Regions from separate parts of the Homo sapiens genome. Here all the other regions are linked to region 3. The links come from fine-mapping of genetic effects on gene expression. A gene starts in region 3. Each other region holds a variant in brackets. All regions are shown on one strand. Distances are between the middles of the regions. Region 1 has its middle 23 kb from the start of LINC00612. Region 2 overlaps A2M (alpha-2-macroglobulin). Region 3 holds the start of PHC1 (polyhomeotic homolog 1). Region 4 has its middle 4.3 kb from the start of KLRG1. Region 5 has its middle 24 kb from the start of PHC1. Region 6 overlaps PHC1 (polyhomeotic homolog 1).

The links. PIP is the estimated chance that this variant, and not a neighbour inherited with it, causes the effect.
Region 1: its variant is fine-mapped to the expression of PHC1 in whole blood (TOPMed, PIP 0.92).
Region 2: its variant is fine-mapped to the expression of PHC1 in whole blood (INTERVAL, PIP 0.97).
Region 4: its variant is fine-mapped to the expression of PHC1 in whole blood (TOPMed, PIP above 0.99).
Region 5: its variant is fine-mapped to the expression of PHC1 in whole blood (TOPMed, PIP above 0.99).
Region 6: its variant is fine-mapped to the expression of PHC1 in lymphoblastoid cells (TwinsUK, PIP 0.95).

The regions. Positions count from the first base shown.
Region 1 is chr12:9,039,086-9,044,512 of GRCh38, reverse strand. It overlaps a transcript of KLRG1 not described here. Among named protein-coding and RNA genes, the nearest start is that of LINC00612, 23 kb to the left of the region's middle. The variant C/T (reference allele first, on the strand shown) is at 2,802.
Region 2 is chr12:9,075,734-9,081,160 of GRCh38, reverse strand. It overlaps A2M (alpha-2-macroglobulin), which reads left to right. Exons shown (of 36, transcript NM_000014.6): 23 at 984-1,067; 24 at 1,346-1,522; 25 at 1,830-1,917; 26 at 3,304-3,460; 27 at 3,741-3,815; 28 at 4,225-4,405. It also overlaps a transcript of KLRG1 not described here. Among named protein-coding and RNA genes, the nearest start is that of A2M-AS1, 13 kb to the right of the region's middle. The variant C/T (reference allele first, on the strand shown) is at 2,831.
Region 3 is chr12:8,911,479-8,916,905 of GRCh38, reverse strand. It overlaps PHC1 (polyhomeotic homolog 1), which reads right to left and starts at 2,397. Exons shown (of 15, transcript NM_004426.3): 1 at 2,079-2,397. RefSeq lists silencers at 1,946-2,235, 2,306-2,355, 2,406-2,515 and an enhancer at 4,712-5,264.
Region 4 is chr12:8,982,512-8,987,938 of GRCh38, reverse strand. It overlaps a transcript of KLRG1 not described here. Among named protein-coding and RNA genes, the nearest start is that of KLRG1, 4.3 kb to the left of the region's middle. The variant C/A (reference allele first, on the strand shown) is at 3,257.
Region 5 is chr12:8,888,034-8,893,460 of GRCh38, reverse strand. No RefSeq gene overlaps it. Among named protein-coding and RNA genes, the nearest start is that of PHC1, 24 kb to the left of the region's middle. The variant C/T (reference allele first, on the strand shown) is at 3,131.
Region 6 is chr12:8,935,543-8,940,702 of GRCh38, reverse strand. It overlaps PHC1 (polyhomeotic homolog 1), which reads right to left. Exons shown (of 15, transcript NM_004426.3): 12 at 3,739-3,847; 13 at 3,377-3,527; 14 at 2,643-2,874; 15 at 1-1,398. The coding sequence ends at 1,244. It overlaps M6PR (mannose-6-phosphate receptor, cation dependent), which reads left to right. Exons shown (of 7, transcript NM_002355.4): 7 at 1-342. Among named protein-coding and RNA genes, the nearest start is that of M6PR, 12 kb to the left of the region's middle. The variant C/T (reference allele first, on the strand shown) is at 2,771.

The sequences.
Region 1 (5,427 bases), 130 kb before region 3:
GTATTTTTAGTAGAGACAGGGTTTCTCACCATGTTGGTCAGGCTGGTGGCAAACTCCTGACCTCAAGTGATCCACCTGTCTCGGCCTCCCAAAGTGTTGGAATTACAGGTGTGAGCCACCACGCCAAGCCTGTTTGTACTTTTTTTGAGTAAAAATTCTTATTTTTTGATTGTTTAAACTTTTCCTTCTTTGATTACTAGAGGAGTAAAGCGTCTCTTCATACTAGCCATTGGGATTTCTTTTTCTACAAATTACCTATTCATATAATTTGCATGCGTTTCTTTTTTTCTATTTCATCAATTCTAAGTTGTACTTTGTTTACATTTTAAGATCCTTGAAATTGGGACACATATTACAATAAATTAATATCTGCTTCATTTATCTGTTACTGTATAAAAAACCACCCCAAAATCTAATTTGCTTAAAACAACAATTTCATATATTTCACAGTTTCATGGGTTGACATGGCTTACCTGGATGATTTTTCTCATGGTCTTGCCAAGAGTCTCTCATGAAATTGCAGCCAGATGGCAGCTGGGATTGGAGTCACGTGGAGACTCCACTGGGATTCTGAGAGACTGCTTGTTCTCTCTCTCCCTGCATGTAGTCTCAGGACTTCATTTTATGGTCTCTCCAACAGAGTAGCTTGGCTTGTTACATGGCATTTCAGAGCTCCCAAGAACAAGAGCTTCAAAAACTATAGGAAGAAGCTGCAAGATTTCTTTGAATTGGCCGCAGAAGTCATGTATTACTTCCATTACATTTGATTAGTCAAGTACATCATAAGGTCAGCTAGGATTCAAGAAGAGTGAAACAGATTTCACCTCTTGAGGGAGGAGTAGCAAGATCACATTACAAAAGAGCATGTGGTTGGAGATATTATTGTGGCCACCTTTGGAAACACACATTGTTATGAGCTGCCATTTGGCCACAAATTTCATCTCTCTCCCACATACAAAATGCACTTAGCCTCTTCCTCAAAAGCCTCATCTTCTTAAGCATAAGTCTAAGATTTCATCACCTAAATCAGATGTGAATGGAGTCCTTTGGGTGAACTTCCTTAGGTACTACTCCTTGAGCACAGGAGACAAGATATCTCAACCCGAAGACATTTGAACTTAAGAAACAAGATATCAGCCGGATGTGGTGGCTTATGCCTGTAATCCCAACACTTTGGGAGCCCAAGGCAAGTGGATCACCTGAGGTCAGGAGTTCAAGACTAGCCTGGCCAACATGGTGAAACCCCATCTCTACTAAAAAAATACAAAAATTAACCGGCGTGGTGGTGGGCACCTGTAATCCCAGTTACTTGGGAGGCTGAGGCAGGGAGAATTGCTTGAATCTGGGAGGCAGAAGTTGCAGTGAGCCAAGAGTGCACCACTGCACTCCAGCCTGGGCAACAGAGCAAGACTCCATCTCAAAAAAAAAAAAAAAAAGATATCTGCCATGCACACAAACCCAAAAAAGATGGTGAGACAAAGAAAGGATAAGGGCATAAATATTCCTATTCAAAAAAATTGAGAGAACAGGAAGCACATAGCAATCACTCATCATAGCAATTCTGGCTGGGAACACATCGCCATTCCTCCATGAGGGCCCAGTCCTGCAATCATCAAAGTGCTTCTCCATTCCTCTTCCCTCTGCTTTCTGGGTTCTAAGATCTTCCTTTTAAGTTATCTTTCCTTTTCTATAAGACATTGCCCATATTTGCTGGTCAATATCAAACTGCTTCCTGACTATAAAAGTTTGAAGACTCAGAGGCCTCTTTTTATTTTTTTATTTTCAACTGTCTCTCCCTTTCAGTACAAGGCAGCAGAATTCTTTTAAAAGCTGTATGGACTTCTTTTCTATCAATCTATAACCATTCCAGTAAACAAAAGCCACACTGATAAATCATAAGACAGGTCCCTCTCTACCTTTGACTGAGAAGAAAAGTGCTGGGTAACAATGCTCTTAAGTTTCTAAGAAGCCTTTAACAGAAAAGGTCTAAGAAACACGTCCTTGGGATTTTTAGTAGACTTTTTGCCTAGCTGAGAGGGTTCAGGAGGCATTATTTTAAATCTTTCTGAGGTCTACACAAAGGTCTACAGCTGTAATCTTGAAATCTTGACCCTGAGGCCATACTTTTAGTGGCAGTGCCCTGAATTTGATCTTTTGCTCTGTTGTAATTTATTACTTTAATAATCTTTTACTGGAAGAGAATGGAGATGAGAAACAGTTTTGTTTTCAATCCTAAAAAATCTGGCAAAGAAATGTGTTGCCTCTAGATTCTAGTTGAAAACTGAGCAGTTACTTCTTTAGTTCATCTCCATCTTTACCTTATCACATGCAGCTAAAAGAAACGAGCTGGTATATTCAACATCCTAGGTAGATACTTCCTTAGCCACCTTATCACAAGCTGAAGCATTGCTAAACTTTTTGCCACTACATTACACAAGCGACCTTTTTTCTAGCTCCCAATAAAAAATGTGTTCCTTGTCCTTCCAGCCTTTACAAAGAATTTCTTAGAGTCCCTTCCAGATTCTTCTCATCACCTGGTCCCCAAACCAATGCCACATATTTTAGATTTTTGTAAAATCATCAGCCTTTCATAGTACCAGTCTCTGTTTTGGTGATAAATTGCTGCACGCAAACCACTCCAAAACTTAGCAGTTTAAAGTAATTATCATTTTCTTATTTCTCATGGTTCTATGGTTGACTGGGGTAAGGTGAGTGGTCTCGCATGGGGTACCTCAAGCAGTTAGATGATAGCTAGAGCTGGAATTACCTGAAGATTTGATTAGGATGCTGGGATAACTTGA[C/T]CTCTCACTCTCCAAATAGACTTAGGTCCTCTCTACCTGGTCTCTCCAGCAAGTAGATACACTTGTTACAAGGCAGGTCAGGGGTCCCAAGTGCAAATGTGCCAAGAGACAGTAGAAGTTGCCAGGCTTCTATAACCTAGCTCTCCAAGACACACAACACCAGCTCCACAGCACTCTGCTGGTCAAGTGAGTCACAGGGCTGGACTGGATTCAAGAATAGTAAAAATAGACTCAAATTCTTGGAGAAGCAGTATCAAGGACACATGGCAAAAAATCCTGTGGCTCATCAAAATACGCATGTCAAACAGGTGCAGTTTATAGTGCATCAATTACATATCAACCAAGTTTTTTGTTTTGTTTTTTTGTTTGTTTGTTTTTGAGATGGAGTTTCACGCTTTCGCCAGGCTGGACTGCAGAGGCGCGATCTCAGCTTACTGCAACCTCTGCCTCCCAGGTTCGAGTGATTCTCCTGCCTCAGCCTCCCAAGTAGCTGGGATTACAGGCATGAGCCATCTCACCTGGCTAATTGTGTATTTTTAGTAGAGACAGGGTTTCACCATGTTGGCCAGGCTGGTCTTGAACTCCTGGCCTCAGGTGATCCACCCGCCTCAGCCTCCCAAAGTGCTAAGATTACAGGTATGATCCACCACGCCTGGCAATAAAGTTGTTTTTAAAGGGCATGTCTGTTGGAAGATACGCAGTGATGTGCATCTTTGGAAACAGTCTGTCACAGCATTTTGCACAGCTGCTGTCAGGTGGGCAGTGGTCGTGATTCACTTGCCTTTCCCTCTTCATGCATAAACTTAGTTGTCTTCCCATTGACATTCCCATTGAACAACTACAATCTCTCAATGTTTCAATCAATGAACCGTTTAATAAGCAGTTGAAAAAGGAATCTGAATTCTAGTTGTTGTTTGAAATCTTTCAGTGATAAGTTCTTGTAAGATCAAAACATTTTGAGCATGAAGATCTGCAGAATAGTTTTCAATAGTTTGGAAAACAACCCCAGAGACAATAGTGAGGCACCCTTTCAGAAAATGTCCTGTGATGTCACAGACCACACAACCACATATAAAAACAGAAAGTCTGAAAGTGATTCAGAAGAATTACATTCTAAATAAAAGTAAGTTTTAGTAAAATTTAATATCTGAGATGAAGATGGGAGGGAGGCACTGGACAGAAAAGCTAGCTGACATTCCAAATATATCATTGCTATTTCATGACAGGACAATAAATATTTGGGTTGAACAATATGAAAGTGTCCTTCTTATAGATCCAAACCATCAAATGGTGAAAAACCTCCTGATTTCAACCTAATGGGTCCTACAGAATACTAAGGAAAGATTTCCTGACTTGGATAGCCCAACACAGAAGGCGCTTAAACAGAAAAATGGATAGCATGGTATTTATCTGTCAAGATGAGGCGAGAGAAGTTAAATTATATACTATTGTTCGAGGACAGACAAGGCCTAGGAACTTAGCACTGTGTGATTCTGTAATGAGTCTGTGCCATATACTGAAATTATATATTCATGATTATGGACCATTTCAAAATGGTAGCAAATTTACCACTATCCTACTTCTCTCCTACTTTTCAGAAAGTTTACTTTCCTATAATTGAGTGCCTTCTTTTTATTAAGAATCTGAAGTTTTTCTCAGTCTTATCTTCTCTTGACTTTTTCTTTACTAATTAGCCTTCTATTATTGATAGTTCCATTTTCCTTCTTACTGAAAGGTATCATTTCTTTTTTCTCTCTTACTCACTGTCATTCTAGTAGTGTCCATACCTGGCAATAACCTGAATGCATTGCGCAGGCATTTTTGCTAATCAAATAATCTATCTTGGAAATGTACAGTAACAAAGGGAATAATTGAATGGCCACTAAAGAACTATTTGTGTCTGAGTATTATCAAAAGAATGCACAAATTTTTCTAGAATCAAGGTAGTGAGAAAATGGTTTTTCCTCTAGTGATTGAATAGAAGAGACTTTACCCTTGATTGGCTACTAAACAAACAAAGAATCCTGGAAGAGAATCTGTAATCTCAGCACCCTCTGAAAAGTCACTGGACTGACTGCTTTAGCAACTGTCATTAATGGTGCAATTACTGGCATTGACCGAAAGAGGGCAGTTAAATCCTATAATGAGATAATGAGAATAATGTGTAGTAAGACATCAGTTGTTAAAGTGGTGTCATGAGGAAGAAGAAACAGAGGAAAAGGCCATGAACAGAAAAAAAAGTTTTTTAAAAAAGCATAAAATTATACATATGTCAAGAACAAATAAGATCGTTTTGTCAATCCTAAGTTTCTGTGTACACAAATTATTAGAGAAAAATACTTTTTAATCATTCTATTTGTAAAGTCATCAGAGAAGGAAAATACAATCTCACTTTCTAGTATTTCACATACGCAATCTAAGCTGGTTTTCTCATTCTTCTATTCTCAGTAAAAGCATAGAGTAGCCATCAAAAACAACAAATGAGAGAGGACAAAGAGAATAGACGCGGAGGCGAAGAGATAAGCTTTGAAGGTGATAACTAATGTTATATTTAGCAATCGTCTACTTTATACATATGACCAACTTATTGAATGAACAGAATTCATATATTGCAATCAGGAAAGAG
Region 2 (5,427 bases), 160 kb before region 3:
CAGTTGTATGACACTAATTCTTTATCTGTTGAATATGTTGCAGATATTTTCTTTCACTTGGTCATTTTTTTAACTTTGTTTATGGCATCTGTTTTTTTACAAAAGTTTTAACATTAATTTTATGAGAAAGGGAAGATAACTGCTACATTTTTCATTTGTATATAATTCACCAATACTAAAATTGTAGTAAATGTATGTTCATCAGTAGCAGTTATTTTATTTTCAGTGAGTCAAGCATTTTATTTTGCTTAGCCATTTGTCCTTTAACTATGCTTATGGCTTTTTTTTAAGAAACATTTTAATATGAATTTTATGAGGAAGGGATTCAGTATGAAAATAAATACCATACTTCTCTCATTTTCATTTCATATAATTTACCAAGATTAAAATGGAAGTAAATGTATGTTCATGAGTAGTAATTATTTTATTTTCAATGCATCAAATACTGTTCGTCTTCACTTCCTTACCCTCAATTTTCTAGGTTTTCCATAAAAATACTATCTTTGTATATGAAATTTGAAGAAAGAACATAGCATTATTATAGAATTCAGGACCTTTTGTGGGTAATTTTACTTATGTATACTTATAGGGCTTTGTTGTTGGTGTTTTCTCCATACAACTGTTGAGTAAGGAAGTTGGTGGTGGGAACTAAATAGATCATCTTGTGATAACCGTCTTGTGTCAGCCATCAGATGACAGCAACTGAATCACAACATCACCAGGCTCTTACAATTTGTTGTCTTATTTGGCATGCGATTCTACATAAATTACTGAAAAGATCATTGAAGAAGAAATTCTGAAAATCACAGGAAACCAGTAGCCCATTTTTAAGATATTTATATATTACTGTTGTATTAAAGGCGGACAACTTTTCAGGAGGAGTTTAGGTATAAGGCATAGTCCTAGCTTCTGGGTCATAGAGCTGTTTAGAAAGATATAATGCAGAAATAATTTTCATATGTCTGATTTGCTTATTTCTCTAGGTGGTGAGGTTTCTGAAGAATTATCCCTGAAACTGCCACCAAATGTGGTAGAAGAATCTGCCCGAGCTTCTGTCTCAGTTTTGGGTGAGTCTCCAGCCCCTAGTGGATCCGGGCATTAACAGCTTCTATTATACTATTTTTATTTCCCATAAATATTTACTAAAAATAATACTATAATTTTAACTTCTTTCTTCTCTTCTTCTTTGGGCTTGTTTATTGCTTTCAATCATACTTCTATCCCTGGAAGAATCATCCTTCCTAAAAATTCTCAATTTCTAAGCTCAACTAATTATTTCTGCTTAATGACTTTGATAGATGATAATCTCCAAGCTTTATGACTTCCCATCTCTCCCATTCTCTAGGAGACATATTAGGCTCTGCCATGCAAAACACACAAAATCTTCTCCAGATGCCCTATGGCTGTGGAGAGCAGAATATGGTCCTCTTTGCTCCTAACATCTATGTACTGGATTATCTAAATGAAACACAGCAGCTTACTCCAGAGATCAAGTCCAAGGCCATTGGCTATCTCAACACTGGTGAGTGATTACTTGAGTAAGGGAAAACTTGAATGTTATTTCAACTGGATTTCCCAGTAGGTTTCAGTTACTTATGAATATTATGATACATTAGCTTAGCTCACTATGATAGCTGCTATGATAGTTAATTTCAAGGAAACTATCCACTCTCCAACCTCCAATAAAATATTTAAGGCTCAGAAACTCCTAATCTATGACAACAAAATTTAAGAAATGTCACAAGAGAAGCCAAGGTACTTTTAGTAATTTCTCCACCCTCAGCATGCACATTAATCCATTGTGCTGTTTCGTTAATCTTCCTTTCCAGGTTACCAGAGACAGTTGAACTACAAACACTATGATGGCTCCTACAGCACCTTTGGGGAGCGATATGGCAGGAACCAGGGCAACACCTGGTAAGGAAAGAACAATTTTTTGAGCTTCTTTTTGTGTGCCAGCTCTTTTACATGTATTACCTCAATTATATTCACAGCAACACTATCAGATATGTATTATCAGACCGATGGTTTGTTATACTAGATAAATCCACCAAGATTAGCAAGGTAATCAGAAGAAAACCTGATATCCAAATACATGTTATGTTAGGCTTGTTTCCAAAATGGATCCTATTAATAATGTACCAAGGTTTTCTTTCTGAAATGGCTATTCTTTCTAAAGTAGCTACCATAACCATGAGTTTTAAAATGATATTGCCAGTGAACATATATAACTTCCAGATAAACCATGTTAACTTCAGCTTATATTGTCACATTCTAAGTCATTCAGCTTGACTTGGAATGAATTCATTAATAAGAGGAAACAATTGAGAAGGAAACAGTAATATAAAACATTTTTTTAAATCCCTAAAGTAAAGCAATATTAAAATTTACTGCATGTAAGAGCTGCATGTGAGAAGATTCTGTCATCTGCAGAAGGAAATCTCTAAAGATAAGAGAGATTTAAAGCCTTACTCAAGTAACTAACAAAAATAAGTACATTCAAATTACTTGAATGTAAATTTGTTCAACCATTGTGGAAGACAGTATGGCGATTCTTCAAGGATCTAGAACCAGAAATACCATTTGACCTAGTAATCCCATTACTGGGTATATACCCAAAGGAATATAAATCATTCTACTATAATGACACATGCACATGTATGTTTATCGCGGCACTATTTACAATAACAAAGTCATGGAACTAACCCAAATGCTCATCAATGACAGACTGGATAAAGAAAATGTGGTACATATACATCATGGAATACTATGCAGCAATAAAAAGAAATGAAATCATGTCCTTTGCAGGGACATGGATGAAGCTGGAAGC[C/T]ATCAGCCTCAGCAAACTAACACAGGAACAGAAAACCAAACACCACATTTCTCACTCATAAGTGGGAGTTAAGCAATGAGAACACACGGACACAGGGACAGGAACAACACACACCAGGGCCTGTTGGGAGGTGTGGGGTGACGGGAGGGAACTAAGCGGATGGGTCAATAGGTGCAAGAAACCACCATGGCACACGTATACTTATGTAACAAACCTGCACGTTCTGCACATGTATCTCGGAACTAAAATAAAATTAAATATACTAAGACTCCCTGTGGCAAAGAGAGAGTTAGCAAGGAAATACTACATCTAGCAGATTAATCAGGCAGACTAAAGATTAATCAAGGAGATAAGCTCTCTAAGTACACAAGAATTTTGTTAGCTAACTCACATCATATGAAGCCTGTTGCTGTGAAGTGGTTATAAAACCATTTTGACAACATAAACATCATGATTGCTTCCTCCCTGGTCAGGCTCACAGCCTTTGTTCTGAAGACTTTTGCCCAAGCTCGAGCCTACATCTTCATCGATGAAGCACACATTACCCAAGCCCTCATATGGCTCTCCCAGAGGCAGAAGGACAATGGCTGTTTCAGGAGCTCTGGGTCACTGCTCAACAATGCCATAAAGGTGAATCATTCTGGAGCTAGTTTTGATTTGTCCATTATGATATCTGCAAGGATGAGGATAGGAAGTGATAATGTGAAAAATTCTAAGGGAAAGCCTCAGAGGAAAATAAAACCTGGATGGCACCAAAAAAGAGGGGATAGAACAAAAGTTGATTGTGATACTTTGCCCTATAGGGATGGATATGGGTAAGGATGAATTCCATGACACAGCAGAATAGAAAGAACTAATCAATAGCATTCTCAGAAGTTGAATTATTCAGATCTCTCTCTCGTATTCACAGGGAGGAGTAGAAGATGAAGTGACCCTCTCCGCCTATATCACCATCGCCCTTCTGGAGATTCCTCTCACAGTCACTGTAGGTACCACCCCATTCCTCTGCTGAAGGAGAGTTCTGGATGCAATGAAACTGCTGACCTGCTGTCTGAAATACTATCCTATTAAAAGCAAAGCATCAGCTTTCTTTCTATGCAATGCCAGTGCTTCCCAGATCTACAGAGAATTTGGTCAGCCCATTAAGAAAGGTTTAAATTTTCCCAGTAATTCCCCTAGGCTATTTACCACCACCACTCAAAAAAGAATCTTAAAGATGTATCTTTTGAATGTGAGAATAACAGATAAAAATAATATTATATCTATTGATAAGAATGAGGAATCGTTGGAAAAATGCGTTTGAAAAACTTCTGTGCTGTGATCCGTGTATTTGCCTGGGAATGCTAATATGCCTGTTTACATAGCTTAGTTCCCTTCTTGTTCTGCCTTCACAGCACCCTGTTGTCCGCAATGCCCTGTTTTGCCTGGAGTCAGCCTGGAAGACAGCACAAGAAGGGGACCATGGCAGCCATGTATATACCAAAGCACTGCTGGCCTATGCTTTTGCCCTGGCAGGTAACCAGGACAAGAGGAAGGAAGTACTCAAGTCACTTAATGAGGAAGCTGTGAAGAAAGGTGAGAGCACACCTGAGATCCTTCTCCTGGCCCATCCTCTGTATCAAGAACTGCATGGCAAAAATCCCTCACTCCTACCTCCTGTGATCCCTGTCTCCTCTCTTCTTTTCTATATATCATATATATTTTGTCCATATTGCATCTTATAAAATCTAGGATTTCTTAATCAAATCAGAAATCAGAAGACAAGAGGCCGTGCAGATGCTTCTCAATTACGATGGGGTTATATCCTGACAAACTCATTGTAAAGTCTAAAAAATCTTAAGTGGGACCATTGTAAGTCAGGGACCATCTCTATAGTATGCTGGTAAGAAGAGCATTCTCTGGAGACTAGCTCCAAAATGTGCTACCTATGTGAGCTTGGGAAAGTCATTAACTTCCTTGTGTTTCAGTTCCTTCATCAGTAAAATGGGGATAATAATAGTATTTACCTCACAGAGCTGTTGTAATAAATGAATTGGTACACGTAAAACACTTAGTAGAGTACATGTCACATAGCAAATCCTATAAAAGTACTAGTTATTACAATTAACATATCAGTTCTCAATATATGCCCAACCCTTACCTGGTACATTATATAACCTTAAACATAAGAAAATAATCATGGAAGTAACTCCTTGAATGAATTCTGGTATTTTAAGCCCATTTCATAAGACCAATAATGTTGACCAATCTACTCATATTCACACAGTACTTCTACATATACCATGGTCTATATGAGCGGTTGAAGAAATAGAAAATAAAATGCAAATCACAAGATGTCCATTAAAACAGTCTACCTTTTTCCTTTGACAGCCATTAATTCTTCTTAAAATGTATTGAGAAATATTTTATAATAGATATACAAAAGGGCATAAGCTATAACTAGAAAACACTGTACAACTCTCTCATAGATTAAGAAATAGAAAATTACCGACATGGGAAAAATAAATCCCTTGTGTATCACTACCACCTCCAGAGGCAATCATTATCCTGAATTTGTCGTTACAATTCCATGGATTTCCTTATATTTTTGCTGCATA
Region 3 (5,427 bases):
CAGAAGAGCTCACCTACAGCCCACATAGCCCAAATAGCTGCCTGGTTCCAGCTCAGGCTACTAATAACACCTCAGGCATGTTGCTTTCCTTCCTTATACCTGTTTCCTCACTGCAAAGGAGGCTTCATACTGAATGTAATATATCATTTTAAGAAATGACTCCGGAGTATGAAACATAGAAATACACACAATGAAAATCTTCAAGAAAGTAAGATGCAACTTTATAATCTACTAACATGTCAGAATTTACCCACTGGGGACTACACTTACATTTGCAAAAAGACACATATGAAAACACTGCTAAGAACCAAGCAAAGAGGCAGGAGATGAGAAGAAGAAATATTCTTCCAAAGCAGCACTAAATGACAATAAGGTTTTTACTCATTCTTTTTTTTTGTTTTTCTCTTTTGTTAAGCTACACACTATTTTCTCTACTTCTGAGGCACTGGGCCACTAGAAATATCAGGTCACCAAAATATTATCTGGCTTAAGAATATAAACATCAAACCAGAATTTCTGCTAAGTGTTGTCAACAGTTTCATTAGGGTGAATGGACTGGTCTTAGGGATTGCATCCAAAACAAACAAACAAGCAAAGTATCAAACTGCTTGGCCTTGGCAATAAAGCTGAGGATATTTCTTATTATCTCATTCCCAGTATCATCCAATCACACTATTATCCCCCCCCAGTCTTTAGTTTCATTTAGGACTAGCAAATGTCACTGCAAACATGTATATTACCCAAAAAGTACATAGGAAAAATCATATCAGCTTCAACTAGTCTACCTTCTCCCCACATCTTTTGCCAAAATATCAAAGCACTAAACAGATACAGACCCATGAATCCTCATTATCAGCATGTGAAGAAAAAAAGTGGGTAAGGATTAGAGGCAGCACGGCACAGTTTTATAGATTACTGGATTTAGTTCACTGGACTCAGAGACACGAGACCCCTTTGCTAGGTATAGAGAACATAATTCCTACATTCACATGTGAAAATACAAACCGTATGACCCCTCGTCTTCCCAAACCTGAATTCTGATTAATAATTTTTTTTGGATTGTGAACTAGAAATAAAAATGTAAAGGGACCAACTTAAAAGTCTCAATAAAATCAAGGGAAACTGCCACCAAAACCAGGATTCCTGGATCCCGGGCACATAAATGTATTCATTTGTGATCAACATTATGACTACAAGATTAAATATAAAAAATGGAGACAACAAACAGTTTGGGCAGCACCAGGTATCAAAATTTTCCAAATTAAACTGGAAGACAGTGAGAAGCTGATCCACAGATGCCCCCAGAGTAGCTAAGCCATGGTCATCTTAAAAGGTAGCATGTGGGCATACATGGGGTTGGGTAGGCGCACAGACCTACCGAAGGGAGTTAGAATGGGACATTGAGGTGGACTTAGCATTGGGCCGAGAGTTGGAGAAAGTCAATATCCCTAAGCACGAAACTCTTATCATGCAGAAAGGATGGGACATAGGAAGGGGGACGGGAGAAGGGGGTGGTTCAGGGAAGACTGTGCCAAAGACACGGTAATAATCAAGAGAACAGGGAGTAGACGCCCAAGGGTCCTCGTTCTATATAGAACCTTGATGAAAATGATGTTTCAAAGAGAAATCAAATACACTGGGGGAAGGGGGTGGATCCAGTGGTGCGCCGGGAATGAACTGACCCAAGTGAGCTGGGACATGTGCATACAGAGAGCAGAGGCAGAAGTCAAGGAACTGGAGGCTGAGGAACCCAGCGGACCACGAAAGCAGGGAGATAACTAGACAGCATGCTCGGCTGGAAGGACCAAAGTCAGAGAAGGAAAAATGAATAAGAAAATGAGCAGTCAGAGGCAGCTAGGGTGACGGACAGACAGCATGAAGCGCAGCAGAATGAATAGCCAGAAGACTCGGACAGGCAGAGCCGAAGGACCGCAGAGCTCAGCGCCGGAGGTAGGCAGGGAAAGCAACTGGGGGAGGTACCTGGGGCGTTACACAGATGGAGGTGGCTGAGGATACATCCCCGCGCAGCCAAGCCCCCAGAGGTCCTGCCCCTCCCCGGCCCTCGGTCGCCCGGTTACCTTCTCGCCTGGCTGTGCACCCAAGTCTTCCCCGGGGGCGTCCACCTCATGTGCCGGGGTCCCCAGTCGCCAGGCTGGGCTGGGGGCTCGCTCGGCCTCCGCGGCGGGCTCCCCTCGCCTCCTCCCCTTCCTGGAGGGGCGGGGGCGCCGAGGGCGGGGTGGGAGGCGCCCGGCGCGACCGCGGCTCCCCGCCCCTCCCGCCGCTCCGGGTGCGGGCCCGGCCGCGGCTCAGCCAGGCCTCCGGGGCTCGCTCCGGGCCTGTCACTTCCTGCCCGGCCGAGAAGGTGGGGGCCGCAGGCCAGGGGCTGCGGGCCGGGCTGGAGGAGGGGGCTGCGGGGAGGTGCTTCCGGGGCAGCCGGACCCCCCCCCCGCCGTCCCTCCGCCTCCCCTCGGCGCCCTCCGCCCCCTCCCTCCCGCGCGTCCCTCGTTTCCTGCCGGCGCCCGTTGCCATGGCGACGCAGCTCCCGGGCCTCTGCGCTCCAGGCCCAGGGGTTTTTTCCTCTCTTGCTCTCTTTCTCCTCTTTTTTACCCCCTTCTTTCTCTCCGAGTTCTGCTCGCCGGTTGGAAGGACGAAACTAAGAAAGTGCTGGCCTCTAGTGGGGAACGCACCTCTCGGAGAGGAGAGGGAGATGGGAGAAGGGAGGGAAGTGACGTGAGACGGGGAGAAAGAAGGTATTTTCTGGAGCTGCTGGGAATAAGGGGTAGAAAGAAAGGATCAAAGGGACCAACAGACAGAGAGGGAGAAAGAGCAAAGCAACGACCCCTAGAGAAACGATAGACTGGGAAAAGAAATGAAGCAAAGGAAAGGAAGGAAAAGGCGAGAAAAACTTTGAGAATGAGAGAAAGGAGAGAGAAGGTTGATTGTTTAATCCCTCACCTCAACTCCAAGAAGGCGGGAAAGAATGCTGCAGAAACAGCTAACCCATTAGGAGTTGACTTCATTTTCAAAGCAGCAACCTAATGTAACTTCCTTTGGATAGCATTTAAGTTTGTCATTTCAGGGATTTGTGTGTGCTTCGATTTCAATATGTATATGAGTTCGAATGACAAAAACGGGAAAAGGCCAGAGTATAACGAGATGTAGAACAATGGGGCTGTCTCTGGGAACACTAAACATTTGATAGGGGAGCCGTTGTCGTTGTATTTATGATATCAACTTACCGGTTTTTAATTACTCTCTCATCGTTCAACATTCAATAAATATTTATAGAGCGTCTACTATGTGCTAAACCGTGGAAGCTTGGATTGCATCAGTGCACGAAACAAAGATAACTGCCTTACTGCCTTCATTAACCTTTACAGAAGGGTCTGGGGGATGCCTCGTGGATTAACAACTGGGATTGATGCCTTTTCTCTTGCTCTCAGTCTTTTCCTAACCTCTATCCTAAACAGTTATTTTCTCTGTCAATCCACTCTTCCTTTTCTCCTTTAAAAGCCCATGCATGGTTTGTTTATAGAGAAAAAAACAGAAGTGTTATCTTTGCTTATAAATTATATCCATTTAGATTTTGCTTTGAGAGAGGAGTATTTGGACTCCAAGGTCTTTCATTTGTGGCAGCCAGATTAAAATCGGAGAACAATTTCTGCCAGGCTTCTAGGAACTAGTCAGACAGGTATGTGAGGGAAGAAACCGGAGGGCAGCCAAAGGACTGGAAAAGCGAAGACACGGGGTATGAGGAGGTGAAAGGGTGTGTTACCAGGCCGTGGATGACAGGCACTGGCTGAGGATGATTTGAAAAGATTCTGACTGGTAGAACTAGTGGTGAAAACGAGGTAAAGCATTCGTTGTTTAATTCACACCTGGATTTTTGGCATGTCAAAGCAGTTAAAGCTTTCTTGCAGAAGTTTAGAAATGGATATCGATTGAGCCTAGGCGGAATTTTCTAGCACCAATGGAAAAAAAAAGCATCTATAGATAATTTTCAGATTATACAACATTAAAGTTAAGAAACATGACTCATGTGCTTCCTTAGTTTCCCTGGGAGAATTATCACTGTTAAGTGTCTAAAGAAGATTTGTAAGCTATAACAAGAATAAGGAATGCAGATATCAGAGGGTATGGACTTGTTTTTCTATAGCCTATGGAACTTGTGTACCAAGAGGGTACATGACCATATCGCATTTCACCCTCCTTACAAATGGAGCAGAATTACCGCTACTGCATATAGTTACATTCCACCCCTAAAGATTTTTTTTTTTTATTTACTAGGTCACCGGCTCCTATAGCTACTAGATAATGTTAGGGGATAAGCGATGAATACTTTTGTTGAGTGCCTGTTATAAATTTAGCCTGAGAATAATCTATCATGAGGCGAGCTATACTGATTATGGGCCAGTAGTTTAATTTTTATATGTAAAGGTGTGTGCTCCATATATCACAGGATTCTTTTCAAGTTCATTTTTCTCCAAGTCAGGCCAGTGTTCTAAGGTCATAGGTCTAAACAGTTCCCACCAAAAAAGATTTAGTATAAAAAAGAAATATATCAACAGCAAAGTAAAGTTATAGGAAAGCCTCCATCCATAAGAAAATCATTTTCATAGACTAAATCAGCTTGAGAGCAGGCATTGAAGAACTTATCTCGGTCTAAACAGCAAAACAATCTGTGTTCCCTAGAGAATACTCAACTTTTTTTTCTTAATTTTTCTAAAGTTTCTCATTTTCATTTAATGACTCTGCTTGAATTAGACTTTTCTTTTTCAAACAAAATGGTTCTTCTGAATGGAGGCTACAGAATGTCTTTACTCTGCATAACACTGAAGGCCATTAGCCTAAACAGGTGAGAAGGAAAAGCATTTAATCCGGTGTATGGAAATGGAAGCCCTCCTGCAAACTTCTCTAAATAAGGAAGGATCCTGGTTTGAAAGGCTGTCGATGTTTGGCAGCAACTGAAGCAAATAGACTAGAAGTTAAGCTAATAGAACTTTTCATATCAACTGAACATTGCTTAAGCATTCCTCAAGCTTCTCCTGTAAACCTAGCATTCTGCAATAAATTGTGAAGGAAGAGATGTCCTTTACCCTAAAGGTGTTAGTATCTTTGGAATGTGTCTTTCTACAAGTAATCAAGTAAGAATGTGTGACCATGTTTTTATGCAAATATGGATAGGAAGAAGTAGAGAAAAAAGGAAATCATAACCTTTACTCTCCCCACCACCAACTGTGGCTGTGAACCACCATACACAGCCCACCTGTGTCTCACTATAATTCTGCATGCCACTTTAAGGTCTAGTTGGGAGAAAATGAAGATTGAGTGGATTTATAGGCTCTTAGATATTTAAAGGAAAAAAAAAGAACTTTAAAACTAAGCCCCTCAGTTTTCAGTGAAGACAATTGAAGTCTAAATGATAAA
Region 4 (5,427 bases), 71 kb before region 3:
TAGTTTAGCTGCCTCTGAGAACAAATTTTCACGCCCTTAATATGAAGGCAAAACAAACAAAATGTGGTCTACACATACAATGGAATATTAGTCTTAGAAAGGAAATCCTGTCATACTTTATAACACTGATGAACCTTGAAAACATTATACTAAGTGAAATGAACTGATCACAAAATGACAAATACTGTGTGATTCCACTTATATGAGGAATCTAAAGTAGTCAAACCCATAGACAAAGAAAGAAGAATGGTTACTGAAAGAAGTTTGGAGGGAAAAAGAAAAGGAAGTTGCTTAATGGGTACAGGGTTTCAGTTTTGCAGTGTGATTAAGTTCTGGAGATACGGTACACAACAATGTGAATATTCTTGTATTCACTTGCTTGGACTATCACAACAAAATACCATAGACTAGGTGACTTAAACAACAGAAATTTATTTATATTTTCATCATTCCACAGACTGAAAGTCTAAGATCAAGATGCCAGCAGAGTTGGTGTTTGGAGAGTGCTTCCCCTGTGGGTTGCAGACTTCTCACTATATCCTCAAGTGGCTTTTCCTCAGTGTGTGCACAAGGGAAGAAAGAGAGAGGGCTCTGGTCTCTCTTCTTACAAGAACATTAATCCTATCAGATCAGGGCCCCACCCTTGTAACCTGATTTAACCTTAATTACTTCCTTAAACACTCCATCTCCAAATACAGTCACACTGAGGATTAGGGCTTCAATATGTGAATCTGGGGGAGACAAACATTCAGTCCATAATAATACTTAACACTACTGAATTGTATGCTTTAAAATAATTAAGATCATTTTTTAAAAAAAGGAAGGTGTATTAGTCCATTCTTGCACTGCTATAAAGAAATACCTGAGGCCAAATAATTGATAAAGAAAAGAGGTTTAATTGGCTCACAGTTCTGCAAGATGTACAGGAAGCATAGTGGCATCTGCTTCTGGGCAGGCCTCAGGAAACTTAGTCATGGTGGAAGGCAAAGGGAAATGTCTTACATGGCCAGAGCAGGAGCAAGAGAGACGCGGGGAGGTGTTACACACTTTTAAACAACCAGGTCTTGTGAGGAACTCTATCAGGAGAACAGCTCTAGGGGTATGGTACTAAACCATTCATGAAAAACCATCCGCGTGATCCAATCACCTCCCACCAGGCCCCATCTCCAACACTGGAGATTACAATTCAACGTCAGATTTGGGTGGGGATGCAGATCCAAACCACATCAGAAGGCAACATAGGAATCAGGGGCTCTTTGAAGAAATGGCTAATTCTAGGGCCAGGACAGGGAAAGTACAAAATAAGCTTGGAGGATCTTCCAGTCTTTTAATGTTAAAAAATAAGCAAGTTAAAAAAAAAAAGATGGGAGCATATCAGGACACAGAAACCAACCTGGAAAAGCTCCCAATGGAACAATATGAACAACAAAATAAATGACAGTGTTGAATTATAACACAAGGGGAAAAACTATATAAATCCATACTGATTTAAATAAATAAATAGGTGAGAAGTGACAAATCTTGCTTACAGAAAATACCAAATAATATATGTAGATACTCCCCATTCAGGATGTGGAATTTAACTCTCCTCCCTTTGAGGGTAGTCAGGGATAAGAGACTCACTTCCAAAGAGTACACTATGGATAAAAGGAAATAGTAACTATTCATTAAAGAATCTTGGCAAATACCACCTCAACCACATGAACAGGGTTCACTGCGTGAACCACCAGTGATGAGTCTTGTTGATATCATGTACCCCCTAATATGATGCAATGATAAAAGCACCTAACCAGTAAGGTTTGTTCCCCAAAATCCATAACCCCAGGGTGGTATTATACATATGTATATATTGGTTTTCATCCACAGTTTCTGGCTCCTAACTCCTATGGTCCCTGTTACAGTCCTTTCTTATAATGTTGAGTGTGTCAGGCCCCAAGGGGAAGGCCTCTGGCCTTCTTCTGCCCTCCTTTCATCTGCCTCAAGGCAGGACTCTAATTTTCCCCTGCCTTTCTGATTGTGGGTCTTAAAACCTTCCCCAGAGAGGGTCCTGCCCTTTACTGGGGTGACAAGGGGAGGGGGTCAGCAGCAAGAATGCTGATGTCCTGAAGCTTCCATAAAAACCCAAGAGAACTGTGTCAGAATGCTTCCAGATGACTGAACCTGTGGAGATTCCTGGAGAGCAGCCTTCCCAGAGAGGGCATGGAAGCTCCACACCCCTTTCCCCATACCCTGCCCTACAGTTCTCTTCATCTGTATCTTTTGTAATATACTTTATAATAAACTGATAAACATAAGGGTTTCCCTGAGTTCTGTGAGCTGCTCCAGCAAATTAACTGAACTCAAAGGGGAAGTTGTGGAAATCCCAACTTGAAGCTTATTGGTCAGATGTTCCAGAGGCCCAGACTTGTGACTGGTGTCTGTGGGTGTAGGGGGTGATCTTGCATATTGAATCCCTGAAATGTAAGATCTAACACTATCTCCAGGTAGATAATGTCGGAATTGAATTAGAGGATACCCAGTTGGTGTCTGCTAATTGGTATGTGGGGAACACCCCTACCACATTTGGTCACACAAGTCTTCTTCTGTGTTGATAATTGTGGTAGTGCTGGTGTGAAAGCAGAAGAAAAACACAGCTGAAGAAAGTTTTCCCCTACACATCCAATGTAAACATGCAAAAAAAAAATCAGATAATTCTAAATTGAGTGGTACTCTACTAAATATCTGACCAATACTCTTAAAATATATCAAGTTCACGAAAAAAAAAAAACACTGAGAAACTGTCATAGACCAGAGGAAAACAATAAATATAACAACTAGATGTAATGTGGTATCCTGGATTGGATCTTGGAACAGCAAAAAGAGCATTAGTGGAAAACTGGTAAAATTCAAACAATGTAGCAATATTCATTTCTTACATTTGAGAAATGTGCCATGATTTTTTAAGATGCTAACATTAGGGGAAATGGGGTGAAAGGTATAAAGAAATGTTCTGTGCTATCTTAAAAACATTTCTGTAAATCTGAAATTATTCCCCAATAAAACTTTTCTTCAAAAAAGAGGATACATAACACAGATTAGCCATAATGCATCACATTTAATATCTAGCATACAATAAAATATTATTAGAATCCAAAGAAATAAGAATATATGGGCCATGGATCAAAGAAAAGTCAGTAAGTAGAAAAGAAACTTATGTAACATAGATGCTGGAACTAGCAAACAAGGACTTTAATATCTGCATAAATACGTTCAAAGA[C/A]TTAGAAGAAAATATAGTCATAATGAATAAAAATTTGAAGAATCTCAGAGAAGTAGAAACTACCAAAAAGAATCAAGTGACTATTCCAGAACAGAACAGCATTCATAATTTTTAAAAATAACTGAATGAGGGCCAGGCACGGTGGCTCACAGCTGTAATCCAGCATTTTGGGAGGCGGGGGCAGGTGGATAATTTGAGGTCAGGAGTTCAAGACCAGCCTGGCCAACATGGTGAAACCCTGTCTCTACTAAAAACATAAAATATTAGCCTGGCCAACATGGTGAAACCCTGTCTCTACTAAAAATATAAAACATTAGCCTGGCCTGGCGGCACATGCCTATAGTCCCAGCTGCTCAGGAGGCTGAGGCAGGAGAATCACTTGAACCCAGGAGGCAGAGGTTGCAGTGAACTGAGATTGCACTACGGCACTCCAGCCTAGGTGACAGAGCGAGACTCCATCTCAATAATAATAATAATAATAGCTGAATGAGATTAATAGCAAATAGAAGAGGGCAGATAAAAAGGTCAGTAAACATGAAGACAGATTGCTAAAAATAATCCAATATGAAGAATAGAGGGAAAAAATGGGAGAAAAAAATGAACAGAACCTCAGTGACCTATGAACAATGCCAAATAGTATAACAAAAGTGAAACTGTAGTCCCCCAAAATAAAGGGGACATATAATGAAATCGGAAAGGAATTTGAAAAAGTAATGATCAAATATTCCCCAAATTTGGGATACAACCTACAGGTATAAGAAACTCACTGAATCCGCATCAAGATAAACAGAAGGAAAATCACTCCTAAGAACATAATCTAAAACTAATAAAAACCAAAGATAAAAAGAAAATACTGAAAACAGCCAGAGGAAAATAAATAACACATTAATAATGGGAAACAACACATGAATGATAGCTAAATTCTCAACAGAAACAAAAAAGGAGAAAAGCAATGAGATGTCATCTTTAAAATGGTAAAATGGGCCAGGCACGGCGGTTCACGGCTGTAATCCCACCACTTTAGGAGACCAAGGCACATGGATCACCTGAGCTCACCAGTTCGAGACCAGCCTGGCCAACATGGTGAAACCCCGTCTCTACTAAAAATACAAAAATTAGCTAGGTGTGGTGGCAGGCGCCTGTAATCTCAGGTACTCTGGAGGCTGAAGCAGGAGAATCGCTTGAACCCAGGAGGCCGAGGTTGCAGTGAGCTGAGATTGCACCATTACACTCCAGCCTGGGCAACAAGAGCGAAACTCTGTCTCAAAAAAAAAAAAAAAAAAAAAAGGTAAAATGGTAAGACTGCCAATACAGAATTCTATATCCAGAAAAAGTATCCAATAGAAATGAAGAGGAAGTAAAAATATTTTCAGAGCAGAGAAAATAGCAAATTTGTCATGAGCAGTCCAGCACTACAAGAAATGCTAAAAGAAGTTCTTAGAAAATAAGTATCACTAGATAAAAACATAGATATACAGAAAACATTGAAGAGCAACAGAAATGGTAAATATATAAGTACATATAAAGAATTATATTTATTTTCTTTTCCCATCTTAATTTCTTTAAAAAAAACAGAAAGTAAAACAGATAAGGCAAATCATTTTAAAAAACAGCAAAATGATAAAGCCAGTCTTATCAATAATTGAATTCATCATAAATGGACTGCTGCACCAAATAAATGGCACAAATTGTAAGACTAGAAGAAAAAGCAAGAACCAAAAAGATATTGTCTGTTCTGGCTAGGCATGGTGGCTCACACCTGTAATCCCAGAACTTTGGGAGGCTGAGGCGGGCAAATCACCTGAGGTCATGAGTTCAAGGCCAGCCTGGCCAACATGGTGAAACGCTATCTCTACTAAAAATACAAAAAATAGCCAGGCGTGGTGGCAGGTGCCTGTAATCCCAGCTGTTTGGGAGGCTGAGGCAGGAGAATTGCTTGAACCCAAAAGGTGGAGGTTGCAGTGAGCCAAGATCGCACCATTGCACTCCAGCCTGGACAACAAGAATGAAACTCCATCTCAAAAAAAAAAAAAAAAAAGATATTGTCTGTTCTGGCTGTAAGATATGCACTTTAAATATAATGACAGATTAAAAGAAAGGTATACAAATATATACAATGTGCAAACCAATATACACATTACAGTAAGCACCTGGAGTGGTGTGTTAGTTTC
Region 5 (5,427 bases), 23 kb after region 3:
GCGTGAACCCAGGAGGCGGAGCTTGCAGTGAGCCGATATTGCGCCCCTGCACCCCAGACTGGGGGACAGAGTGAGACTCCGTCTCAAAAAAAAAAAAAAAAAAAAAAATCTGGAAAGCAGACCACAAGATGTACAGAACAAATGGCGGAACACAGAAACCAGAAACACGGAGAAAAGTAATCTCGGTTCCAGAGAAGGCATAGGCTATCTCCCCTTACAAGAACAATCCTCCCACACCGCACCCCTCACCTGTCTCATTCCTGCTTATTCTTCATCTTGCAACTTGAGTGTCACTTCTGGGAATTCTTAATTCAGCCCAAAGATTAGGTTAGGTTCCCACAACCTGACTGTGCTTTGTCACATTCATCCCCCTAATGAAGGGCAGGCAGTGTTGCTCTCCCTCACTAAGCTGCAAGCCTGGGAAGGGCAGGGAGTGTGGTTGTCACATTCATCCTGTTCACTACTCAGTGGGTGCCCAACAGATTCGCACTTAATGAAGGCCCCTCTGCTGGCCTTCAGATTTCAGTGCTTATGGAATAATTATTTCTGTCCCCTGCCACTCAGCCCTGTACTCTGCTTTGTGATGGAAAAGAGGAAACCAGGAATAAGAAAATGTGCCCCACAGATTTTGCCAAAACCATAATCTGTTAGATAAATTGCTGAGAGGGAAAACACTAGAATACCTCAAACGGTAATTCCATTCAACACAAAATACGTAAATATACGTACTTTGGGAAAGTACATCACATATCACCACAGAGCAAACGCTGTTGGATCGCCATTATTTAAGGAATATCTCATACTCAGTTTCTGGATTTCTGCAACAACTGGTAAAGGGGAAAATATCACATTTCTTAAATTTATACATGTATAGGCTGGGCACGGTGGCTCACACCTGTAATCCCAGCACTTTGGGAGGCCGAGAGGGGAGGATCACTTGAGGTCAGGAGTGTGAGACCAGCCTGGCCAACATGGTGAAACCCTGTCTCTACTAAAAATACAAAAAAGTTGTCTGGGCTTGGTGGTGGGAGCCTATAATCCCAACTACTTGGGAGGCTGAGATAGAAGAATCACTTGAACCTGGGAGGCGGAGGTTGCACTGAGCCGAGATCGTGCCACTGCACTCCAGCCTGGGTGACAGAGCAAGACTCTGTCTCAAAAAAAAATAAAAAGATAAAAATAATAATAAAAGAAATTTATACATGTATAGTTGAATAAGCACAGAATATCTCTGAAAAGATATACCAGAAACTGAGAATTAGCCAAGCCCCACCCACACACTTTACTGCCTACATTAGCTTGACTTTGCTATTCTACTGTCTTTACCAACAAGACTTTAGTATTTCAGGAAGCCCTTGCCCCAAAAATAAAAGCTGTAATGGGAATGGGTAATGGGTACAAAAAAATAGAATGAATAAAATGTAGTATTTGATAGCACAACAGAGTGACTCTAATCAATAATAATTTAGTGTGCATTTTAAAATAACTAAAAGTACAATTGTATTATTATTTTTTCTTGAAACAGAGTCTCACTCTGTCACCCAGGCTGGAGTGCAGTGGCTCAGTCTTGGCTCACTGCAACCTCTGCCTCCCAGGTTCAAGCAATTCTCCTGCCTCAGCCTCCTGAGTAGCTGGAATTACAGGCGCCCGCCACCACGCCCGCCTACTTTTTGTATGTTCAGCAGAGATGGGGTTTTGCCATGTTGGCCAGGCTGGTCTCCAACTCCTGACCTCAAGTGATCTACCCACTTCAGCCTCCCAAAAGTCCTGGGATTACAGGCGTGAGCCACTGTACCTGGCCTAATTGTATTGTTTGTAACACAAAGGATAAATGCTTGAGGTCATAGATATCCCATTTACCCGGATGTGATTATTACACATCACACGCCTGTATCAAAACATCTCATGTATCCCATATACCTACTCTGCACTCACAAAATGAAATTTTTAAAAACTTTTTATTTCCATAGGTTATTGGGGCACAGGTGGTATTTGGTTACATGAGTAAGTTCTTTAGTGGTGATTTGTGAGATTTTGGTGCACCCATCACCCGAGCAGTATACACTGAACCCAATTTGTAGTTTTTTATTCCTCTCTCCCTTCCCACCCTTTCCGCCCAAGTCCCCAAAGTCCTTTGTATCATACTTATGCCTTTAATTTTTTTTAACTGAAAAAACTTTTTAAAATAAAACTTTTAAATAATGTTATTGTTCATTTCAGGAATATCCAGACAACGTATTTTAAATTGCTTAGCTTTCCAGTACAGTTATCAAATGATTATTCATGCTCCAAAACTTTTTTAAGCCCTCACCTTGCTAAATCATGATCCGTACCCAAACTTAATCAGAGCCCTTCACTGAAAGACCCACCTTAATCCAACCTAGAACCTCATAAATATCCTCCCTTTGCCCTCCCCTCCCAGATGCTGCTCAAGTTTCCGCAAGGCGGTGTGCTCCCTTGCTAAGACATGAATAAACTCCAGCTTTGCCTATCTGTGAGATTTCGGGTGGTGTATTTCAGGGCGCTGACATTTGGCAAAAGTAATAGTATAGGTTACATCCGAGGAGGGAACTGAGAGAAGAAATGTGGAAGGTGTCTCTTAGGACCTTTGAATTTTTACGTGGGCGTGTATTGTCTATTCGAAAATAAATGCTAAAACAAAACAAAAAGTTTAAAAGCAGGACACCATTGTGTAATCTCCTTTCTGACCAGAAGGTGGCGCCTCCACCTTTCCTGGGGCTGGGGAAGGGGAAAGCTGTAGAGAGGGGAGAAAGGTCCCAGTGAAACAACAGGGGCCTACATTGAGAGTGGAAATTTTACCTCCTGGCAAGAAAGGTCCAGAATCTCTCTTCACAATAATAGCTAATATTTATTGAATATATATTAAATGCCAATTAAGATTTTTAAAACAGGCCGGGCACAGAGTCTCAAGCCTGTAATCCGAGGACTTTGGAAGGCTGCAGCCAGTGGACAGCTTAAGTCTAGGAGTTTGAGAAAAGCCTGGGCAACACGGTGAAACCCTGTCCCTATTTTTTAAAAATAAAAAATGAAAGATTTTAAAACAGCATTCTTCTTTTTTTCTTTTCTTTTTTTTTTTTTTTTGAGACGGAGTCTTGCTTTTTTACCTAGG[C/T]TGGAGTGCAGTGGCGTGATCTCAGCTCACTGCAACCCCCGCCTCCCAGGTTCAAGCAAATCTCCTGCCTCCCAAGTAGCTGAGATTACAGGTGTGCACCACCACTCCAGGCTAATTTTTATATTTTTAGTAGAGATGGGGTTTCATCATGTTGGCCAGACTGGTCTCGAACTCCTGAGCTCAAAGTGATCCACCTGCATCAGCCTCCCAAAGTGCTGGGATTACAGGCGTGAGCCACTGTGCCCAGGTTTAATACAGCATTCCTAAGGTAAAATTGGTATACAATAACAGCACATATTTAGTGTACAATCTGATGAATATTAACATGTATTCAACCATGAAACTATCACCATAATCAAGATAATGGAACATATCACCCCCAAAGCTTTCTTGTGCTAATTTGCAATCCCTCCCTTCCTCCCTATCAGTTTTAAGTACTTTACGTAGATAATTTTATCTTCACTACCACTCTTTGAGGTATTATCACTCCCATTTTACCAAGGAGGAAACTGAGGTATAGTTAGGCTAAATAAATTGCCCAAAGTCATTCAGCTAGCAAGATGTAGAGCTGTTATTTGAACACAGGCTGATTGACACTAGATACACACTACATCAGCAATTTTCAAACTGGAGTACATGTATCTCTGGGGTGTACAAAGCCTTTCCAACATGGACAGGGCTGAAATTTCCAGATTTTGACTTCCAGATGCAGTCTCCATCTTGACACTTCACCAAGAATGTTCTCTACGTGTCAAAGCATCTTCTTTCCCCTCTCCCTGCTCACTTTACAAAAGGTTACTGCAACTCTCATTCCTTCCATGGTATGCTGTTCTAGGGCACACACATACACACACACACACACATACCCCCTCTTGACCACCAAAGATAATTTGAAATATTGTCACTTTGTGTAGATAAAGTACTTTCATGAAAAATCTTTTTGGAAGTCAAGATTTATAATTCTTTCAACCAAATTAAAGGAGCATCTAATCAAGTTGAGTGCTGATAAATCAGTTTTTGATGAAAGATTATTATAAGGTTTTGGTATATAACTTGAAAGAGTTCACAAAATTCACTGGCATTGCTAAAGCTAAATGCCTTCTACTCTTATTTATATGAGTGAGATTTCTCAAATAATATACCTGAAGAAATTAAAAATTGGAATACAATTAATCTTGATTCTTGTCTCATTCTAGAAATAAGCAAATTATGGGCCAGGCATGGTGGCCCACACCTGTAATCCCGGCACTTTGGTGGGCAGATCACTTGAGGTCAGGAGTTCGAGACCAGCCTGGCCAACATGGTGAAACCCCATCTCTATTAAAAATACAAAAATTAGCCAGGCGTGGTGGCAGGCGCCTGTAGTCCCAGCTACTCAGGAGGCAGAGGCAGGAGAATCACTTGAACCCAGGAGGTGGAGGTGGCAGTGAGCTGAGATTGTGCCACTGCACTCCAGCCTGGGGGACAGAGTGAGACTCCATGTCAAAAAAAGAAAAAAAGAAATAAGCAATAATCATCTGTGAATGTATGCACTAATATATTATTGGATAATTGAAAAAAATCCCAACCACATTCATGTCATTAGAAAATGTGCTTCTAGTTTTTACTTTTTATTATGTGTAATATTTTTTGGCCAGGTGCAGTGGCTCATGCCTGTAATCCCAGCATTTTGGAAGGCAAGGCGGGAGGATCACTTGAGGTCAGGAGTTTGAGACCAGCCTGGCCAATGTAGTGAAACCCCCTCTCTGCTAAAAATACAAAAATTAACTGGGTGTGGTGGCACGCACCTGTAATCCCAACTACTAGAGAGGCTGAGGCAGGATAATTGCTTGAACCCCGGAGGCGGAGATTGCAGTGAGCCGAGATTACACCACTGCACTCCAACCTGGGCAACAGAGCAAGACTCCGTCTCAAAACAAAAGAAGTGATATTTTTTAACTTCTTATTTTAAAAATGTGTGCTGTTTTGATCCAATATGTCTAATTGTGATGTTAACTCAATCCACAAGAAGCCTTGAATATATTTGAGCCTTATAAAATAAAAATGTTTTGATATCTGAAGTTATAGACATATTTTTATGGCAGAAACTCTGATAAGATGATCAATAAAACTTTTAAGCATAAAAACATATTAAATAAAATTCTCTGATAAAAGTGGATGAAGGCTAGGCATGGTGGCTCACACCAGTAATTCCAGCACTTTGGGAGGCTGACATGGGATGATTGCTTGAGCCCAGGAGTTTGAGACCAGCCTGGGCAACATGGTGAAACCTTGTCTCTACAAAAAATGCAAAAATT
Region 6 (5,160 bases), 24 kb before region 3:
GGCCATGTGCCCAGAAACCTGGACTGATCTTTCTTTAATAGTGAACCCCTGGGCCACTGAAGAGTAACATGGCTCCACTGGACACAAAAGAGGGATGGAATCAACAGGCAGGGGGCCTTTTATAAGCCTTAGGAAAAGAAAATGAAACTATTTCATCTTTGGACTTTTCAATACTATTGGAGTGATTTTTTTCTTTCTAAACAGGGAAAATAATGTTACAAAAGCATCTTTTTTGTTATTTGTTTGCATCCCTCCCCCACACCCTGGTGTTTTAAAATGAAGAAAAAAAACCATCACCTTTTGTACAAAAACTCTTAATGATTAAAAAACAAACAAAACATATTGGCCTTGTCATTTGTGTGAAAGTGGGCAAAGACTGGAATAGAGTAAGACAACTGAAACCAATTTTCATCCTTTTACTGAGGAAAAAAATATTTAATATTTTTGTTATATAAGGAATAGTGCCTAAGGCAGGTACTTATACTCCTGACCTCAGCCCCACACACTCTGGTTTTATAAAGCTATAGGACAGAGCAGAGATGGAACTGAAAAACAGGGTAGAAAATAACATAAATTGGAGGGGAACAGTGGGATGCAGAAAGAATGACAACAGCCACATGTGCCCCAGTCAAATACTTTTAGTCCCTGCAGCAGAAGATGCCAACCAAGTCTCTATACTGGCTGGGGATCCTGCCATGGATGCAGGAGAAAAAATTCAATCACAAGGGAGTAAGTGACAACAAAAAGAAAAAACTCTGAGCCACAGCTACACTGGGAGGGGGGAGGACCAGATTTTGCTACTTCTGTCACACAAGCTAGAAAAACCCTACCTCTCCCATTGGGCAGGCAACCTGACATTCCACCCAGTTCCTTGCCTTACCATACTATGTATTCCTCCTCTTGGAGAATTAAGACCTGGGCTAAATGCTCCACTCCAGGATAAGGCTGAGCAGTCCTAGTTCTCTAGACTGCCTCTTTTATAAAGATTGGATTAAGGTACGTGAAATGGTGAGAACTGTAAAGATTTTAAAAAATAAAGTAGAACCCAGAGAAAATGTCAAAGCTGCCGCCATGTAGCACCAGCAACCAATTCTTGCACTTCTCTTCCCTGTCTCAGTAATCCCCTACAGAAGGTTACATGATTGGAACAACTCTTTCTTCCCTGCAAAGTCTGCTGGTACCAGGTTATAACCTGGACAGTGGAGAGTGTCTGCCTTAGGCTGGTTTGTGCAAGAGGGCCACCTTAGGTCTCCTTGAGGACATTTATCTTGGCGCAGATCTTGAGGGCAGGGCCCAGCTTGATGTTCATGGCACTCATAAGATGTTCTTCTTTAAGTAATAAAAGGGCCTGTCCATCAATCTCCTGTGAGCGAAATTCCTCTGCAATCTCTTGGCAGCCTAGAAGAAATGGTGAGAACATGTAGGTAATGCCAGATGATAGGAGAAGGGAAGCTAAATGAAACTGAGGTCTAGCAATGATTAATTCCAAAGTACCTGTCCTAAATTCAGTAATATGAAGTCAGATGGCAAGCTTTAAAAGCAAAATGAAATTAGAAAGCAACTGGTATTTAAAAAATGGCCAGGTGCAGAGGCTCACGCCTATAATCCCAGCATTTTAGGAGACCAGGGCAGGCAGATCACTTGAGCTCAGGAGTTCAAGACCATCCTGGGCAACATGGCAAAACCTTGACTCTACAAAACATACAAAAATCAGCTGGGCATGGTGATGCATGCCTATAGTCCCAGCTACTCGGGAAGCTGAGGCAGGAGGATCATTTGAGCCCAGGATGCGGAGGTTGCAGTGTGCCAAAATTCATGCCACAGCACTCCAGCCTGGGCAACAGAGTAAGACTCTGTCTCAAAACAACAACAACAACAAAACCAAAGTCCAAGACCAAGAAAGGAAAAGCAACTAAATTGTTCAACCACAGAAATAACTTCATTCAAATAGCTTAGAGACAGGGGAAAGGGAGAGAACAGAAATAAAAGCATGTTTTCTTTTATACTGGCAAAAAGATTCTTTGTGATATTTTTGTTTAAGGGCCCAGAATTCAGACAAATAGCAAGAAGGGTAGGGTGATTTTCATTTCCGAAAAAAACTCTTTGTCAAAATTGCATATAGGCTGAGTGCAGTGGCTCACACCTATAATCCCAGCACTTTGGGAAGCCAAGGCAGAAGGATCTCTTGAGCCCAGGACTCCAAGACCAGCCTGGGCAACATAGGGAATCCCTGTCTCTGTTTAAAAAAAAAAAAAAAGAAGACTAGCAAACAAGCCCTCTTTGAAGAGTGGGGCAACAATGGCCACTTAGTTTCTAATACCCTGCTCCACTGAAAAAAAAAATTTTTTCCCCATGGGAGGTATCATAGTTAATTACACAAAAACATTTTATCCAAAAATTTAGTGAGAAATGCAGCTACATCATAAGATGAGAATCAAACACTGTAAAATTGCTGACATTACAGAAGATAATGTCAACCCAGAAAAAAATTAGGAAGTCAACTTGAATATTAGGAGTAGAGCCTCTATATTAGCATTCAAGCTCCTACTGCTTAAAAGTCAATTACTTTCCCTCTTATCAAGGCCCCTGTGGGATGATGTTAAGGAAAACAACCTGGGTTCTGTTGAAGAGAGGGTCAGTACCTTGGAGAGAAGCAATAAACTCGTACACCTCCTCTACACTCCAACGGCTGGGATTACTGGACAGGAACACAGGGTTGATGCCATGTAATTCCGGTGTAGGTGGAGCTGTATTGGGATTCCCCAGGTCA[C/T]GTTCTCCATGCCCAGCTCTTACTGATAAAGGCCCAGGAGATGTTGGAGAGAGTGCTTCATCATAACTGGAATTATCTGAACCCCGGCTAGAGTCTTCTTGACCCTATAGGGGAAAAGAGCAAACCAATGAGGTCAGTGTCAAAGGTTTATTCCTCTCTCTTTCTTCCCAAACCACCCTGGGTTGGGCGTAGAAGAAAAACTCATCTTATCATATGTGAAATAAGCAGCACTTTATTTGCAAATTCCCAAAATCTACTCTCAAAGTCTTTCAAATAGAAACTGTATCACTTCCTTGATTCTCCCCATGACCTAACAATTGATCTAGATTTTCTCTCAAGTACAATTGAGAGAAATTGAGTACAATTGAGTACAATTAACAATTGTACTCAAGTACAGTGTAAGGATTAATGGAAACATGAACCAGTAGTTGGGTAAGAGGTCCGGAGACAAAGGGGGTCAGGATCTCTTGGAATTTGTAGTAATGCAATCAATGTGAAACCAGAGTTCTCATCTCACACCCTCTTACCTGGGCAAATGAATTGCCCTGCAGGGAAAGAAAAAAAGACCCAGTTTAAAGGCATCTGGCTCTACAACAAGCAGCTCACCCGGTGGCACTTGCCCTGAATCTTGGCACGGGCAATGTCAGAGGAGCTGCGGCGGGGTCCACGCCTGCGAACGCGAGCATAGTTGGCTTCTTGAAACTCTTTCATTTTTTTCCTCTTCAGCCGGAACTGATGGCTACAGCTCACATTGTACCTACAGGACAGGGCATATATAGGATGTCAATAGTGCCACAGAAGACCACCCTGCTCTAAATGTGAATTTCTGCTTATGAGCTGATTTGGGGAAGGGAATAAAAGCAAGGAGGGAGACATAAAATATCAGCTATGAGACGATCCTGGGGAAGGGGTGTAACATTAGATGGAGATACCAGTGCTGAGGGCAAGGAGGAGGGTGCCCAGAGTACCTCTTAGCGCAAGTCATGGAGCAGAACCTCTTAGAGCCACGAAACTGCTCTGCGGGGGCGTACTTCCCACAGTACTCGCACTTCAGGAGATTCGCCTTCTTATCTAACTCTAAAAAACAAGGTATTGCTGGACAGTCACCATGGGTTTCTGCTGCCCCTCAGGCAATCATTAGGCTCAGAGCTGGATTCTAAAATTATTCTCAGGGTTCACCCCCAAAAACCTACACAACCTAGTTGAGAATCCCTAAAACGCAAAGTTCAAAACCTAAAATCACGAAGACTTGTCCCTTGAGAACTTTATGACGTCTTCCTAACCTTAAGCCGAACTCTCTCCATTTTAGATGTCTTACTAATTTTATCCTAATTCATACTCTTAGATTTCAGATATGATTCAATTTCTGAGGAGAGAGGAACTACTAATGCCTAGAAAGATATAAGATCCTTCTACCACAAAGATTTCCAAAAGCAGTGGGAAAATCAGTAAGAGTCCTTAAGATAGATTATAAAATCTAGAATAAGGAGAACTGGAAATTAAAGATATAAATGTCCTATTTTAGATCATCTTTTGGAAAAAAAAATTTTTTTGAGACAGTCTCACTCTGTCACCCGGGCTGGAGTGCCGTGGTGCTATCTTGGATCGCTGCAACCTCCACCTCCCGGGCTCAAGCGATCCTCCCACTTTGGCCTCCCAAGTAGCTGGGACTACAAGCATGTGCCACAATGCCCAGTTAATTTTTATATTTTTTTGTAGAGACAAGGTTTCACTATGTTGCTCAGGCTGGTCTCAAACTCCTGAGCTCAAGAAATCCACCGGCCTTGGCCTCCCAAAGTACTGGAATTATAGGTGAGAGTCATCACACTCGGCCAAAAAATACATCTATAGAGTAAAGAATAATTCAAGGGCCAGGCGTGGTGGCTCACGCCTGTAATCCCAGCACTTTGGGAGGCCAAGGCGGGCGGATCACCTGAGGTCGGGAGTTGGCGACTACTAGCCTGACCAACATGCAGAAACCCCGTCTCTACTAAAAATACAAAAATTAGCCAGGCGTGGTGGCGCATGCCTGTAATCCCAGTTACTCGGGAGGCTGAGGCAGGAGAATCGCTTGAACCCAGGAGGCACTGGTTGCGGTGAGCCAAGATCCCACCATTGCACTCCAGCCTGGGCAACAAGAGCGAAACTCCGTCTCAAAAAAAAATAATAATAATAATTCAAAAGATTACTTTAGCTGGATAAATTCCCCTCACCTTATGTAATTCCTTTTCCGTGATTCTACATACTCTGATATATAATATGGTTTCTATATGTAGACAGACTTCATTTTATTCCTACTTTTTTTTGAGACAGAGTCTCGCTCTGTCGCCCAGGCTGGAGTGCGGTGGCGTGCAGCTCACTTCACTGCAACCTCCGCCTCCCAGGTTCAA